Homo sapiens: one gene and its partners. The protein of the gene in region 2 interacts with the protein of the main gene of each other region in a biochemical or structural test. Each region holds a gene or a part of one and is shown on either strand. Other genes may lie near its edges.

Region 1 (3,753 bases), on a different chromosome or scaffold from region 2:
CCCTTTCTTGGCTTTACTCTCCTTTTTAAGACCACAACGTATGTTCTGCCATACAGATAATATTCTCCTCAAAAAAGAGAGACAGGAGAAAAAACAGATCTACGGCAAACCTCCTACCACTACCAGTGATGCAGTTTGTCCCGTCTCAAGCCTATGAGCATATCCTTTCAGATCTGAAGCCACTTCCTTCTTCCTATCAAGGACAGTATTATCAAGTGTCTTTGTGAGAGGAGCAATCCTGTGCCCCTTCTTGCAGATTGTTTTGTTCTGCTCAAGAAGCCCTAGATTCCTCCTTTATTTTCCTTTCCTTATTTCATTTGCTGCAGCAGCCCAGAAACCCCAAAAGCAGGACTGCCAGAAATGAGTGACCTTTATATCTCTCCACACTAACACATCTGAGGGAAACTGCCGACACCAAATATGTGTTCATGAGCTAATGAAGCAGAAATCCTCAAAGGAAGCACCATTTGCAACGGCTGAGGACAGAATTCTTTAGTGGACACCAAAAAGGCTGTGGAACTCCTATGCATTCTAACATCTCAGGTAACATTCTAATGGAGGAATAAGGAGGCTTACAACAAAGTCATACAACACAAACAGAAGTCTGAAAATGCTGGATTTCGCAAATTTCTTTTAAGACAAAACAACTTTACTAACCTTATACCATAGCAGCTTTCTTCTCTGTACTAAGTGAGGCCAGCAAGTAGGAGGCATTTCCAAGGGGGAAAAATGACCACAGGATCTAGCCAAAGCAACCTGTCTCTAATACTCTCAAAAAACAAACAAACAAAAACACTTTGATTTCCCAGATTCACTCTGCAGTGATTCTAAAACTTTCCTAATGTAAGAATCACCTGGCTATTTCTTGAACACACAAATTCCCAGATGACACTCCAGATGCACTGAATCAGAATCTCCATGAGAACACCTGAGCTATTCTTATCATAAGAGAGGTTAGGGAAACACTGCTTGATAAATGTTATTCTCCCACCAGTGCCCACCTGTGCAGGGAGGTATGAAACAAGTAGGGCTAAGATGCTTTACCTGAGCAATCACCTCAGACATGCTCCTCACTGGGTTTGACTCCTTTTATGGAGAGCTGGGTGTCAGCTCAGTAAAGTCTACAGACAAGCATCTCTTTGGGTCCCTATCACCTGCACAGGTCTCAGGACTCTGAGACAAATTTCTGAGTAGATGTCAATGAGGACAAGTCATGAGGAGACGGATTACAGCTGAATATAAGAAGATCTTTCTAAGAATTAGAGCTGGCCAAAGATGGAATAAACTGCTGTGGAGAGCTGTCTACCACAAGAGATGTTCAAGAAGAGAGAAAATATGGTACCTCTTGACTAGAATGTTGTAAACATCAGATCCAGCATGGGATGGACAGAAAGACTAGATGAATTTTAAAGTTCCCGCCAATGCATAAGTCAACAAAGAGGAAAATTTCAGCCACTCCTTAATTAATTAAAAGAGATAGCAAAAAAAGTCTGTGGGTGGGGTCAGCTTTCAACTGATCCTATCTCTTCAAAGGAAAAAAGAACATAGAAACACACTCCAACTCACCATCAGCCTCTCCTATAGAATGTTCTAAAGGTGGGAAAGCAGGAGTCATAGATGCTGTGACTAAGACCTGCTGCTCAGTTGACTCTGAATTTGGGGCACATGCCAGACAAGTTCTGTAGTACAGAGAAGAAATGTGTGTAGCACAGACCTGGCCCTCAAGGATCAAAATCATGTGGCAGAGACAACTCAACACCATGTGATTCTCTCAAATATTTATTCATCATATTTCATCTTTAGTTTTTGTCAGTAGGGTGTTCAGGGGACTCTCTTGGTTCAAAAAAAAAAAAAAGCAAATATACTTTACTAAATGTACATATTCTCTCAATCCAGTACAAGTTTGCAATATCCAACTCAATGAAAAAAATCTCAAAAAAAATTATCAAAATAAATATAAACTTAGTTAACTCTAATTTTAAAAATAGTATTCCAAAAATGACTAGTCCCCAAAATGATGAAATTACAATAAGGTGTGGCTATTCTGGACAAAATAACAGAAATTGCTGGCCTAGTAATACAGTAATACAGGAAGCAGTGGAAGCAAACTTGAGTGAGAGGCAGGGGGTGGATGGCAGTGCCTTTGAAGTGAGATTCCAAAGTCAAAGTGACCTTTATAAATTGCAGAAGTGATCAGAAAAAGAAAGAAAGAAACCCCACACACAAAGAAATTCAAAATTACAAGTTAAAATGAAACATCTGGGGAAGGGAAAAATTTGGTTTTTCCCCAAATGTAAGGTAAGCATGACTCCTGCAAATACTGTTTTTAAAATGTCTAGGAGTACCACAGTTGTCCAAAATAAGAAAATGGCTAAAAATAATTGTTCGACTGAACAAGTATTTATTGTGTGCCTATTAGATACCAAGGCATCATGCCAGGTACAGGGGTAGGGTATGGGCATTAGAATAAACACATAAATGAAAATACACGATTCCTTCCTCATGTACGCATTAACAATAAGCACTTGAGGATGTTATAAGAGTTTTTGTGCACATAAGCGCATTTGTACACGAGATGGAAGCAATGAGGACAGTGAATGAGGCACTGGACACCAGAAGAAAGGAATTCTAGTCTCAACTCTAATTGGCTCTGTGACCATGAACAATGAACATCAGAAAATGGAGGACGGAAACAGTGGCTCTCCTACAAGGTCACCAAACCAATTAATAACAGACCTGGAGAAGAATTCTGGTCTTCTGGCTCCTAGTTCAGTGATCTGTCCAAAATACTACACATACGGTAGGCTGACAAAGAAAGAAAAGAAGACCTTTTGGTTTCAAGTCATTTGCAGAGAAAGGGGGAGAAACAAAAACAGGAAAATCAGGAAAGGGTGGAAGGAAAATCAATAGTTCAAATTTAGGCATTCGAACTGAGACATCAAGAAAGGAAGCATGTAACTATGGACTGTGAACACAATATAAAGAAAATGATGTAAAATTTCTTATATCCTTATTCAAATCACGCCTTGCAGTTTTTTACTCTAAAATCATTGCAGACGTATATAGATAAAGGGTCAAAAAACAACATGTATGAATGACATTTAAGGAAAAAGAGATAACAGAAGAAAAGGGAAAAGGAGAGGTGGAGAATTTATTATATCATCTAAATATATGAAGCCCTTCTAAAGGGTCAATGCAGACATATTGCACCCAGATAAATAGAAGAAATGACATTATATTCTATATCTCTTACGTTAGCAATTTTTAAATTCCTTGAGTCAGAAGCGTTAAACACTGGAATGACTAAGGTTACATTTGTTATGGAAATTTCTTAAATTTAGAAAGACCTCATACACACACCTGAAGGTAAAAAAAAATGTACTTAATCAGTGGGTTGCAACCAAGTTACTTGTCAGAATCACCTGTAAACCTTGAAAAAATATGGATTCTCAAACTTACCTTATCAGAATCCCTGGGTGCTGAGTCCAAGATCCACCCCAACAGATTTTGATGTAGCCAGGACACAGAGTTTTTTCTACCATAATGGGAGAGGTAGGGAGGAGGATCACTAGGAATGGCAACACAGAGTGGGAACTAGATCAATGCAAATTTTGTGGGCAAAATAGAATTTCTGTGGGTGTGATATTTTTAAGATGTATTGTAAGGCTGCTCTGAACCATCCAAGCATATCCCACTGAATTTAAACATTCTCTAAAGGTCCTGAAGTCAGCAACTACAATCCAGGTGAACCAA
Region 2 (3,753 bases):
GCCTGTTGGGCACTGCCTGGGAGAATTGCGGGCTAGACATTTTCAGGTGGGCCTGCTGCTGCATGTGGAAACTGGAGGCTGCAGTGAAGGGACTCACGTTGCTGTTCCCTGGGGTCTGGCCACTGAGGTTCGGCATTCCCTGATGCTGCCAGGAGGAATTCTGGCCTCCCATGGCTGGTGACACCCTTGGGACCGGTGGCTTTGTTAAACCAGGGTTCAGGGTCCCCTTATTGTGCTGCTGGGAGAGGCCAGAGCTTCCCAGAGAGTTCTGCCCATAGGCAGCTGAGACGGAGGTGTTCTGGCCCACGTTGGTCTGCCGTGGAATGTGGGCATGTCCATTGGTGGCCTGTGGCGGGGGCTGGGCAACTATCTGGGTTATGCCAGAAGCCATGCCATAGAGGCTGCTCTGAGGCATGTTTTGGGAGCCAGGGAACTGAGCCACACCCCGGTCCTGTTGGCCTGAGTTTGTGGGGAGAGAGGAAACTGAAGCATGTCCAGGGCCCATTGGCATCAGATTCCCAGCCTGAGGGAACACTCGAGGACAGCTGGAGTTGGATGGACCCAAGGTGTTCATGCCGGGCACGGCAGCAGAGGACCCTACAAGACAGAGAAGAGTCTGGCAGTCAGGAGTCGACCACCACTGGGTCCCTCTGAGACTCGAGCCGCAGCACCAGAAGTCTCACGTTCACGGCACACTGGGAAGAGGGCCCCGGGGGCCATGGGGCAGAAAGCCTTCCACAGGTGGAATGGAGGCCTGGTCTCTGAAACAATGATGGGGTTCAGAAAGGCACAGAGGAAGGGCAAAGCCCCAGGGGAGAGAAAACCAGTGACCTACTTCATCTAACTTTCAAGCACCCACCAAATTTCTGCTCTGTGGGGACCCTGTGGTGGGCACCGGGGACTCTGAGGTGGACCCAACGCAAGATCCGCCTCTGGGAGGCAAAGTTAGCACATGGCACGATGGGGCGCAATGGGGCGCGATGGGGCGCGCCTGGCCAGCAGGCTGCAGGGTGCAGGCTGGAAGCCCTGGCATCTGGGAAGCCTTGGGCAAGGCTTGAGAGAGACAGTGATGAATCCACTAGGTTTAAAAGCACAGAAGTTTAGCAATTTAACAGTTTGGGGAAAAAGAGCATTCCAGGCAAGTGTGTGCAAAGGCAGAGTCAGAAAAAGGCATCTGTGTGGGGAACTTTCAGAGACTGGCCGTGGCCGGGATATGCAGACAGTGGCCAGCTGGTTAGAGATAAAATGGAAGAGCTAGTTCCGGCCAGATAGGGAAGAGCTGTGGATGGCGTGTGAAGAACGGGGTTGTGGCCGGGCGCGGTGGTTCACGCCTGTAATCCCAGCACTTTGGGAGACCGAGGCGGGCGAATCACGAGGTCAGGAGATCAAGACCATCCTGGCCAACATAGTGAAACCCTGTCTCTACTAAAAATACAAAAATTAGCCAGGCGTGGCGGCGCGCGCCCCCAGCTACTCGGGAGGCTGAGGCAGGAGAATTGCTTGAATCCGGGAGGCGGAGGCTGCAGTGAGCCGAGATCATGCCACTGCACTCCAGCCTAGGCGAAAGAGCAAGACTCTGTCTCAAACAAACAAACAAAGAACAGGGTTGTAAAGCCCAAGAGTGGCTGGACTGAGAGTGTGGCTGAGACCATGCTGGGGAGAGGCTGTTCAGTCACGGAGATGAGGGAGGGCAGACCATGTGGGAATGGGGGGTGGAGGTGCAGAACTGTGTGACAACATCTCACCAGACAATATACCATCTTATGGCACACCATTTATACTATGAAATGACAAGGTGGCCAAAGGAGGGAGGAGTCGCAGGAAATTACCAGATCTTCACTGAGTACCCACTCTGTGGCAGGTGCTGTGCTGGAGAGACAGCAGAGGGTGGAAGAGAAAGCACCCCTATGCTCAGGGAACTGCTGTCTAGGCCTCCTGGCTTAAGCAATGGACATATGACAACACCATTAACTGAATTAGGTTTTGTGGGTAGGAGAGTCATTGTTCAGGGATTGGCCGTAACTCAGTGCTTTGTTCTTCTTCCTCTCTACTAGCAACCATATAATAAAAATTGGGGCCGGGCACGGTAGCTCACACCTGTAATCCTAGCACTTTGGGAGGCCAAGGCGGGCAGATCACGAGGTCAGGTATGTGAGATCAGCCTGGCTAACATGGTGAAAGCCCATCTCTACTAAAAATACAAAAATGAGCCGGGCGTGGTGGCAGGCGCCTGTAATCCCAGCTGCTTGGGAGGCTGAGGCAGGAGAATCGCTTGAACCTAGGAGGTGGAGGTTGTAGTGAGCCAAGATCGTGCCACTGCACTGCAGCCTGGGCGACAGACCAAGACTCTGTTTCAAAACAACAACAATGAAATTGGGTTGAGGAAAAGAGGAGAGCTGAAACCGGCTATTTCATTCCCATCAATAATCCACAAAATGTCAGATGGGTCTGAAGGCAGAAAACATGGGTCAGACCCATGCTTCTGAAATGCCTGCAGATTTCAACCCCACGTTGACCCCAGGTAGCACATACATAAAACCGTACCTGGTCTCCTCCAGGACACACAGCTGTGGTCAGTCTCTCTGGGACCCTTTATAGCAAGGTCCCAAATAAGGAAAAACAGAGGTTTCTAAGACATTCTGAGAGGAGCTAGGAAGGCGGGCAGACCAGAGCTTCCTGTATCCATTCCCTGAAATCTTTGTGCATTTCTGGAGGGATGGCCTATGAAGTTCCCTGGCACATCTCAGAGGCGACAGCTAGACTCAAGTGTGCTTCCTGCCCTTTTCTGGCCAACTGTCCACTAGTGATGCTGCCATCTGTGATATTCAAGTGAGCAGACAGGAGGAGAGAAAGAAGCCAAAGGCCACGCAAGTGCATTAAGTCCTTATCTGGAAGATAGGAGTCATTTTTTGAAGACACATAAAAGCAGAAGCAAAGAACTTTCTTGAGAATTACAGAAGCTATTTCCTGCTGATAAGATGTCCTCCAACTAGAAATGATTTTGCTTCAGAAAACTGTACAGCCAGGGACCCAGCAAAGGTAGTTCTAGTGGTTTGCCTCTGTGCCCTCTTCTCCTGATGCCGTGGAGTAACTAGAAAACCAGGCCCCTTAGGCAAACTGAGGTGTATATGATGACAATGCATGCAGCCTGATGAAGTCAAGGCATAGAGCTGGGCAGACAGCAGGGATTCAACCAGCACCAGGCAGCGGCCTCCCCTGTCCCTGCTCGTCACACAGACACCCCCTACCTGTGAACTGTCCAACCTGCTGTGGGAAGCTGCCTTGTGTCGGGTCTTGGTACTGGGGTGGTGGGCGGGTCAGATGGCGCTGAAACTGTTGCTTCTCCTAGAAAATGCCAAGAACAACAAAACAAAACCAACATATAACAAAATCCAAAACAAAGGGAGTGAGGGAGGTCAGAGAAAAGTAACTTATCCAAGTTTGTTACTCACAAATGGGCTCCTGTGGAAATAGTGCTGATTTCATTTTGGGGTTTTTAAATAGTATGAAACAGATCTAGGGAGCAATGACTTTTTTAAAAGGTAGGTATACCTGTTTTTAAAAAATGGAGAGCTGGTTAGGAAAATGCAAATCACAGCTACAATGAGATCCCACTAGGATGGCCAGAATCAAAGTCAGATGATAACAAGTGGTTGGTGAGGATGTAGAGAAATCAGCACCCTCATACACCGCTGGTGGGAATGTAAAATGAGACAGCCTGTGGGAAACAGTCTGACAGTTCCTCCAAAGGTT
Region 3 (3,753 bases), on a different chromosome or scaffold from region 2:
AGTCACAGGGAATCAAATGTATTTATCAACACTGATTTGCCATACATAGTTCCCATCTAACAAATGAATCACATTTCAAATGTTTATAAATCAGAATTAGAACACATTTGCCCAGAGAATTAATTGTCAAAGTAGTTACGTTTGCAAATGGCCTATAATAATTATAATTTTTCATTATTTCTGTTTTCCTAGCTGAAATTCAGCATGCCAGAAGCCCTGTCCCTACCTTTCATCTTTCCACACATCAGAGCCCCAACAAGAGAAATTCCATTACTTCCTAAACTCTAAGTAGCAAAAGAACTTCTTTCCCCTTCCAATTTGTTACCATCCATCACCTCAGCAGCATATGAAATTCTGACTCCTTACACCTCATGGAGGTGAGGCCAAAGCAGAATCATTTGCCAACCAGAGCCCCAGGCAAAACAGAGTTCTGCCATGGCAGTTTTACACATGAGAGAGTCTTAAATCAGACCCCTGGATTTCAGAGGCTGCTTTTCTTGAATGGCCAATGTTCTCATGATTGAAAACTGACACACACACAATTATGGTGTTCGGTGCAAACGCTGATAAATTTATCTCCACTGTTAAATAATGAGTACCTCACCATGTCCAACGGGTACAATGGAACATTTGTAGTGCATATATATACTACTACACGTACAGCAAGAACTCAAAAAATGCTGGCCAGGGAAAACAAGGGGAAAAGAAAGGCATGGCAAGGAAAAATTAAAACCCACAAAATTTGCTGGGGTCTGCAGAAAATACAATTTTAAAAAAAATCCCTTTGTCCTATTCCTGTTGGAATGTCTTTTCTGATGAGACCTTCCCTGTCTTCTATGATCCAAATCAAATACTGTAAACTTTGAAGCTTTTCCTAAAAACCTTAACCAGTTGGGGACTTCCTTCTCTGTGTTGCCATATACCTTGCATTAATTATTATAGTGCTTATTGAATTGCAACATTTACATGTTTGTTTCCCCAGTAGTTATCTCCCCAAATAATGGAATACTTCATTCGTCTTTGCATTCCCAATACCTTGGACAGTGCTTGGCACATAGAAGGGTCCAATAAATACTTGTTGAATGAATGAGTAATTGACTTCTTCAAATGTTCAAAGACACAGTAAAAGTAATAACTCACATGAACAAATCCCAAATGAATTGATTTTCCAGTATTGCTACTAAAAAAATGAAATTTAAGCATGAAATCTCAACGTGGCCTAAATAGCGGATCTGAATGCACTGATATCTAAGGTAGGTAACTTCAACCACATGGAAATAAGAAGTACACAGCAAATACAGTCATCCCTCAGTATCCACAAGGGGTGCGTTCCAGGACCGTCCCCCAAAATCCACAGATGCTCAAGTTTCTAATATAAAATGGTGTCCTATTTGCATATAACCTACGCATATCCTCCCACACACTTTAAATCATCTCTAGATTACTTATAATACCTAATAAAATGTAAATGCTATGTAAACAGTTGTTATACTCTATTTTTTAAGGAAATAATGACAAGAAAAAAAATCTGTACATGCTCAGTAGAGATGCAACTATCCTTCCCCCTACCCCCTCGAAAATTTTTGAACCACAGTTGCTTGAATCTACAGATGCAGGACCTGCAGACACAGGGGACTAACTGTCCTCTTCTGTCACATTTTTAGAAGGTTATAAGGAATACTCTTTATTGTATACATGACTATTCCAGTGATAGAAATTACATATTGTATTTGGCATTTCTGACATCTAAAGAAATATTTAAATCAAAATGAACTTAGATACAGCATTCAGCCATATTCAGAAGGGGAAAAAGGTAATGGGATGCTCCAATGCAGGTTGAATCAGAAGAGTTCCTTTGTGCTGCCCACCAACTGAATGGTTCAAGGGAGTGGGAACAGGCACTAGTCCATAAATCCTCAATATCTTAAGAGATAAATACAGAGGAATGGCAAGGTAGCGTAAGACATGTTGGGTTAAGTAACTGATAGGTCTTTGGGAGTTACCAAGCTTTTTGGCAGTTGATGAGAACCAACGTTAAAGCATGAGACTAAAAAATATGGAAATGCACCATCATCTAAAGTAAAATTTTTTAGTGGTTGTTTGCCTAATCTTGCAAAAAATATTACATTTTATGTTCATAATTTTTACTTCCTCAAATCATAATACTAGAAAAGACCCTAAAAATTATATGCTGAAACCCCCCTACTAAGAGCTATAAGGGCAAATGACTTGCCCAAGGTCATACTGCTATCAGAAGCACAGTCTGAATTCAAATTCAGGTTTCCAGGATCGCTCATCTAGAGTTCTTTCCACTAGATGAAGTGCTTCCACATGGCTTTCATTAGAGTTTAGTCCTACACACACACACACACACACACCCCTCTAGATACACAAGTATGTTTGTGTATATACGTACAGACACACCCATATATCTACATAAACAGTTTTATAGCACTTGAAAAAAAGGGTGCTTCAGCAATATACCCAGAAAGTACACCAGTTTATTGAAGCAAATATTAATAGTTCTACAAGGTATTTATGTTTTTGAATAACCCACTAGAAATCAAACTCCATAACTATTTTTTTACTTATTCAATATATTAATTATAGGAAGCATAATGGTTAAGAGCATGGGCTCTGGAGTGAAAAACCTGCGCCTAATCCTCTAATCTTAGCTGACATTTAATTAGCTGTGTACTCATGGGTAAATTTGCTTAACCTTTCTAAGCCTCAGTTTCCTCAACTGGAAAACTGAAAAATAACAGAATTGACTTGATATACTTCTTGTGAGGACTAACTAGATGATGAATGTAAAGTGCTTTGCCCAGGACCTGAAACTTAATTACTCAGTAATTTAGCTATTATTGCCATTATCACTGCCTACTTACTAATCTCTGGGCTCTCAACAAATGTGCCCCAAAGAAAGTTGGCAGTATCTCTCTCTCTCTCACACACACACACACACACACACACACAAACACACACTCATTCCTCACTCATAATTATCTATTCTTTGGAACATAGATTATAACAGATTAAAAACCCTGCTAAGAAAATGCCTTTTGTTTTTCTTTTTTGAAGAAAAACCTCTTATCCCAAATTGATATTTTAAATTATCCAAACATTCAGTGCAAATATTGAAGTCTAGAATTTAAAAACACAAATTGTTTTCTGTCTTCTAACGCTCTCTTACTCTTTAAAACAAAATTAGTTTGGTTGCCTAAACTCTGCAAAGAGGAGATACAATCAACTCAGAAAGAAAATGAACCCCCCTGCTTCCCACTGAGTACTCTTTAAGTGTTCAGACACAAAGGACACTATCTCATTTACGGCGACACGAGTGAGAACAAATTAATCCCAAGATTTATTGTGCATTTCTTTAAACTCTATTATAATGTGAAATTAACAAAGTTATAAAAGGTCCCTTTTCCCTACTATGCAATCATGCCTCAAGTAAGTCAAAGAAATGAATCTTTGAAGCTATTTTATTTCCTAAAACTTAATAATTTAAGCAGCTAACTTCTCTGGTCTAAATTATTTTACCAATTATTCATGTTCTATGCTCACTGGGCAACTGAAAGGATACAACGTTTACATACATTCATTTCAATAGTCAAATATGTCTAAACCAAGCTTATTTGCGTTACTTCCTTTTATAGAAAATCTCAGGTTCTCCTTAAAGGTGTTACTGTCTGAGTTCCTAGAGAACAAATCTCAGCTGCAGAATATATAATGTAATTTGAAAGTAAATCA

Evidence for each region.
Region 1: the proteins of MAML1 (region 2) and NOTCH2 form a complex in vitro, tested with the Homo sapiens proteins (one study listed by BioGRID).
Region 3: the proteins of MAML1 (region 2) and CDK8 form a complex in vitro, tested with the Homo sapiens proteins (one study listed by BioGRID).

What each region holds. Positions count from the first base shown.
Region 1 is NC_000001.11:120,062,911-120,066,663, forward strand, and holds part of NOTCH2 (neurogenic locus notch homolog protein 2 isoform 1 preproprotein), read right to left. Parts: intron 1-3,753. UniProt on the Homo sapiens protein: Functions as a receptor for membrane-bound ligands Jagged-1 (JAG1), Jagged-2 (JAG2) and Delta-1 (DLL1) to regulate cell-fate determination.
Region 2 is NC_000005.10:179,770,739-179,774,491, reverse strand, and holds part of MAML1 (mastermind-like protein 1), read right to left. Parts: intron 3,346-3,753; coding exon 3,249-3,345; intron 598-3,248; coding exon 1-597. UniProt on the Homo sapiens protein: Acts as a transcriptional coactivator for NOTCH proteins. Has been shown to amplify NOTCH-induced transcription of HES1. Enhances phosphorylation and proteolytic turnover of the NOTCH intracellular domain in the nucleus through interaction with CDK8.
Region 3 is NC_000013.11:26,257,118-26,260,870, reverse strand, and holds part of CDK8 (cyclin-dependent kinase 8), read right to left. Parts: intron 1-3,753.